2 separate regions of the Homo sapiens genome follow, and region 1 is linked to region 2. The links come from fine-mapping of genetic effects on gene expression. Tissue or cell type: whole blood. Region 2 holds a variant in brackets; the other region holds the start of a gene. All regions are shown on one strand. Distances are from middle to middle.

Region 1 (2,666 bases), 22 kb after region 2:
TGTCCACTGCGCTGGGCGAGGGGCCCTGCCAGGACCCCACTGGGAGACTGTCCGCGGACGAGGGCCAGGCCGAGTACTTGTGTGGGGCGGGGAGGCCTCGGCTCCTGGCCCGACTCCCTGGGTAGGAGTCCATTGAAGGCAGCGGTGGGGCAGGAGCCTCAGAAGGAACCAACGAACCCAGCGGGAGTTCACCCGGCCGCCCCAGCGGGGGGGCGCTGACCCCACGACGTGTGCTCTAAATCTTCCGGGTCCACAGGAGACGCGAGTCCCGGCTGCGGAACAGGGGAGGGGGCTGTAGGAAGAGGCCACGTCGCTGCCCCCAGGCAGGGTTTCTAAGCTGAGCTGGGGACAGCTACTGGGTGTGGAGTGAGGAAGGCTCTCCCCGCGCCCCCGGCTCAGCACTGTACCAGGGCAAGGCAGGGCCAGCCTGGCCGACCTGGGGTGGAGGGGAAGGAGGCTGAGGGCCAGGTCCTTGTCCAGTGGGGAGCTGGGGGCCAGCATCCCTGTGCCCCCAACACCCTCAACCGAGCAAACTCGGGGGCTCAAGGCTTTCGGGGTGCCCCCACTCCGTAGCCCCTGCCCTTCCTCGCTTTGTGGGTGCGTGCTCCTGCCCCCGCCACTCCCACCCGGAACGCACGCAGCGCGCAGAGCTCGGGGCGGCCGCGATGCCTGCTCTCGCCCAGCCCGGCTGCTCCGGGGCTGCTGCAAGCCGGCGACCCGGGCTCCGGGTGGGCGACCCCCTCACAACTCCACGGGCTCCTGCGGCTGCGGCGCGCTCCCAGCGCACGGAGCCGGGACGGCAGCCGGCGCCTCCCCAGGACTCGCGTGCGCTCGCCCGGTCGCTCAGCCCGCGTCCCTGCCTCAGTCTCCCCACCCAGGAAATGGGTCCAGGGCGCCAGGGCTCCCGCGCGACGCCGACGTGCACTGCTGGGGTCTTCCCGGTCCCCGCCACCCGGCCCGCGGAGACCCCCGGCTCCGGCCCAGGAGCTCCGCGCCCGTCCCGCCCGCGCGCTCACCACTCCCAGGCTGAGGTCCTCGGCGCGCGGCGCGGGTGCGGGCGCGGCGCAGCCCCCGCGGGTCCCCAGCGCCAGCAGCAGCAGCAGCGGCAGCGGCAGCCGCGAGAGTCCGGGCCCTGGGGGCGGCGGGCCGGGTCCCCGGGCTGCGCGGCGCCGCATGGCGCTCACATGGGCCCGCGGGCGGCGTGCAGGGTCCCGCGCCCTCCGCTTCGCGTTCCGCAGCCCGGCGCCCTCCGCTCTCCGCGGCGCCCCCGCCGGACTGAGCCCCGCGCGGCAGCCTCAAGCGGCGGGGCGGGGCCATGCAAATGTATGCTAACGAGGCCGGCCGCCTTAAAGGGCCCGCGCCGCCTCGGACGCTGCCACCCCCGCCCGCCCCGCCGTGTCCGCGACGGGACTGGGTCCGCGGCATCACAGGGAAGGCGTTTCCCCGGGTGTCTTAGGACGCTCTTGGGGCGGCGGGGACGCGCGGGATGGGCGCGGAGGCGGGGGTCGGGGCGCCTGCGGGGAGCTGACCCTGACTCCCCTCTCCGGCCGCGCTCCCGGGTCCACCCCCCACGGCGCCGAGGCCCGGGTTCAGACCCGGGTTCAGGCCCCGGAGCCGCCGCCGCAGCGCAGCAGGTGGGCGCTTGGTGGAGCCCGCGGACCGCGGGAGAGGGAGGGTGGGGCTTGGGGGGCGCGGGGGACTGGAGGGCGAGGGCGGGTGTTGGGGGGGCTGGGGTCCTCGGCGGAGGCTCTGCGGTCCCTGCGGGCCTGGGAGCGAGAATGTTAACTTGTAATGTTTGTTGGAGCGCAGCGTGTGCCTGGCACATGCCCAGGAGTTACATAAATAATTTCATTTACTTACAACATTTATGAGATGAAAACTATGATTTCCATTTCGCAGACAAAGAAACTGAGGCCCAAAGAAATGAAGTAACTTATGGGAGGTCCTGGAGCGGGCAAGCGGCAGAGCCAGGGTCAGAGCCCGAGCAGGCGCTTGTGTGGATTGAACTCGTGCAAGTTGCGTACAGGCTGCCCACCGAGTGGGAGATCTTGGGAGAGGGCAGGGGGTGAGGTTCAAGGGTAACCCTTGCCTTTATTCAGCTTCTCCTCGTGCTGGACAGCATGGCTTCCCCTCCTTCCCAGGCCCTCCTGCTCCACCACCCCAAATCGCAGCTGGTACTGTCAGGACTGAGGTCTCATTCTACGGACAGGGAAACTGAGGCTCGGCCCCTTTTACCAGAACTGGTCTCAGGGAAGTGGTGCCCCTCCCCTCCTGTGAGGGCCGACTCCCCCCAACCACCCCCCCCCCCCCCCCCCCGCTTCCCTGGGTACTCTGGCCCATCCTGTCCCTGCTGCCCTCAGAGCCTCCCTGGCCCGGTCTGAACAGGGTGATTCCACACCTGCTTCAGATGACCTTGGTTCGGACTGATGGGATCACCTGTAGGAGGTGGGGACTTTCACAGGACATCCCGGATTGTTTTTTCTTTCTTTCTTTTTTTTTTTTTTGCTCTGTTGCCCAGGCTGGAGTGCAGTGGCACGATCTTGGCTCACTGTAATTTCTGCTTCCTAAATTCAAATGATTCTCCTGTCTCAGCCTCCTGAGTAGATGGGATTTCAAGCGTGCACAACCGTGCCCAGCTAATTTTTGTATTTTTAGTAGAGACGGGG
Region 2 (2,835 bases):
CCCAGCCCGAGATGCTCCCTCCAGGGCCGGAGGAGGCTGGCGGCGGTGCGGCCTGACTGGGCACCCTTCTGGAGCGGCCACCCCTCGGCTCGTCAGTCAACACAGTCCCTCACTAGGGGACAGCTCCGTCCTTGCCACCTGAGCCTGCCCAGCCCTGGCGGACAGTGCCCTCTGCTGGCCTTCCGGTGCCAGGGTGGCCCGTCCTCATCCCGCGCCAGCACCTCCCCCAGGGACTCCGGCACAGTCCTTGCCCTCTGTGGCCAGGCTGTCCCACCGCCTCTGTCCTCTCATGGGCTCGCGCTGTGTGTCATAGCGTCAGGGCCTGGGCCGCTGTCCACAGGGCGCCTGGTGACAGTGGCGGCAGCAGCAGCAGCATGGTGGCAGCCACCAGTGGGCCTGGGGCCCCCGGGGGAGAGGATGCCCCAGAGGTGCATGAGCAGACCTCGTAACCGTCCTCCGAGCGGCTCTGGTCATGTTGTCCTGGAGGGGCGCGGGGCCCCTCTGCCGCGTCCACGCCCGCAGCCACAGATCCATCGGCCTGTGAGTCTCCACACACCAGCCAGTCCCGGGCCGTGGACTGTGGGTACCCGGGTGCCACCTCCAGCTCGCCATCCAGCACTTTCCAGTACTCCTGGCCACGGAAGAAGTAGGAGGCACCTGAGAAGAGGAGGGAGAGCTGAGCTCAGGGGAGGGCTGCAGCAGGAGGGGCTCGAGCCGGACAGCGAGGAGGGAGCGTTGGGCTCAGGGAGGGCTGCAGCGGAAGGGGCTCGAGTCGGGCCAGACAGCAGGGGGCTTGCACAAGACTGCAGTGGGGGGTCAGACCAGACGGCTGGTGGGGGGCGGCTCGTGCTAGATGGCAGGGGGTGCCCAGATAATATCTGAGATGGGGTCAGCATCTGCTCAGCTGTGGGCAGCTCTGCAGGCATGGTCACAGGCCTGGGAAGCTCCAGAGGAGCCTGCTGGGGCAGGGGATGGACCAGGAGACCCTCAGAGTCTCTTTCCCTTACTGGATATTTATTGAGGGCCCACTCTGTGCAGGGCTGTTCCAGGTGACAAGGATGCAGCGTTGAAAACAAAACAGAGGATGCTGCCGTCCCTGGAGCTGACCCTGTGGGGAGGTTTCTTCTACACTGTGGGACGTGGCAGGGGTGATGCCCAGGAGGGCGTTTGGCAGGGCTGGGGCCGGCGAGGGAGGGGCTGTGTGGACATCTCAGGAAAGTGTGCCCAGACGAGGCATGGCCAGTGCCAAGGCCCTGGGGCAGGAGCGTGGCTGGGGGAGCAGCAGGGGCGAGGGAGTGCTGAGGGCGGGGAGAACAAGGGCAGCTCGTGGGCCAGGCCTTCGGGGAGCGACTCGGGGACGCCTGCAGGGTCGGCAGCTCCAGGCGAGGGGCTGGGACCCTCAGAGCCCACACCGACCGGGGCCGTCCTCCTTTCAGGGAACCTCTTGGCTGCCCTGTAGTGATGCCCCTCTCCTGGTGGGGAAACCAAGGCCGCATGGCCCGTCCCCCCAGCTGGCACTCACCGTCGGACCAGCGCATGGCGTCGTCCAGCGTGCTGGGGACACCCCTCCACAGGGGGCTCTGGGCGGGGTAGCCGGGGTCCATGTGCCTCGTGTGGTCATCGTAGCGCCAGTACAGCTGGTCCTTAAAGAAATAAGTCCTGTCAT[T/C]GTGGGCCCAGGAGAAGGCAGCGTCGATGCCGCCAGGCGGGAGGCTGAAGTCGGAGACGGGGCGCGGGTATCCTTCCTCTACGTTATTGTCCTTGAACACCCAGTACCTGTCTCCTGGGGGCGAGAGAAACAGCTGTGGGCCGGGGCTCGGCCCCACCCCGAAGGGCAGGAGGCTCCTGCCTTTCCTTCTCCTGTGTCAGCCGCCCTTGCCCTGGCCCCTCACCTGGGCTTGATGGGACAGCGGCCACACTGCAATCACCCCACATCACAGGGGCCACATGGATACTTAGTGAGCACCTACTGTGCCCAGTCCGGGCCATCCCATCCAGCCTGTGGACGCTGCCGGCCACCCCTTTACCGATGGAAACAACAACTCGGGCCAAACCGAGGCCCACGACATGCCATCCTATTATTATTATGATCATTATTTTTTGAGACGGAGTCTTGCTGTGTCACCCAGGCTGGAGTGCAGTGACTTGATCTCGGTTCACTGCAACCTCCGCCCCTGGGTTCAAGCGATTCTCATGCCTCAGCCTCCCGCGTAGCTGGGATTACAGGCGCCCACCACCACACCCAGCTAATTTTTGTATTTTTAGTAGAGACGGGGTTTCACCATGTTGGCCAGGCTGGTCTCGAACTCCTGACCTCAGGTGATTTGCCCGCCCTGGCCTCCCAAAGTGCTGGGATTACAGGTGTGAGCCACCGTGCCCTGCGTTAAATACACTTTTCTCCCAAGAAATATAGATGGCATTGAGCACTTGAAGATGGTCAACGTCACTAGAAACGCCCTCAAAACCACAATGAGACGCCCCCTCGCCCCCACTGTCAAGAACGTGGAAAGTCACCTGTGTCGGGAGGATATGGGGACGGCAGAGCCGGGCGCTGCCGGGGAGGGAGTATGAAATTGTGCAGCCGCTGCGGGAGACAGAACATAGGCTCCCCAAAACGTCAAAAATAGAATTACCACGTGATCCAGCATTCCCGCTTCTGGGTATAAATCCAAAAGAACCGAAAGCAGGGTCTTGGAGAGACGTTTGCACACTCACGCTCATAGCAGCGTCCTTCACAGGAGCCCAGAGTAGAGGAAACCCAAGTGAGCAGGCGAACGAGGTGCAGTCCGTCCGTGCCATGGAATGCCGCTCAGCCTCAGCCAGGAAGGAAATCCTGCC

Evidence for each region. PIP is the estimated chance that this variant, and not a neighbour inherited with it, causes the effect.
Region 1: it holds the start of MMP17, and the variant in region 2 is fine-mapped to the expression of MMP17 in whole blood (TOPMed, PIP above 0.99).

What each region holds. Positions count from the first base shown.
Region 1 is chr12:131,827,004-131,829,669 of GRCh38, reverse strand. MMP17 (matrix metallopeptidase 17) reads right to left here and starts at 1,277. Exons shown (of 10, transcript NM_016155.7): 1 at 1,017-1,277. The coding sequence starts at 1,175. RefSeq lists a silencer at 1,283-1,412.
Region 2 is chr12:131,848,747-131,851,581 of GRCh38, reverse strand. It overlaps MMP17 (matrix metallopeptidase 17), which reads right to left. Exons shown (of 10, transcript NM_016155.7): 9 at 1,523-1,780; 10 at 1-657. The coding sequence ends at 308. Among named protein-coding and RNA genes, the nearest start is that of MMP17, 22 kb to the right of the region's middle. RefSeq lists an enhancer at 1-135. The variant T/C (reference allele first, on the strand shown) is at 1,667.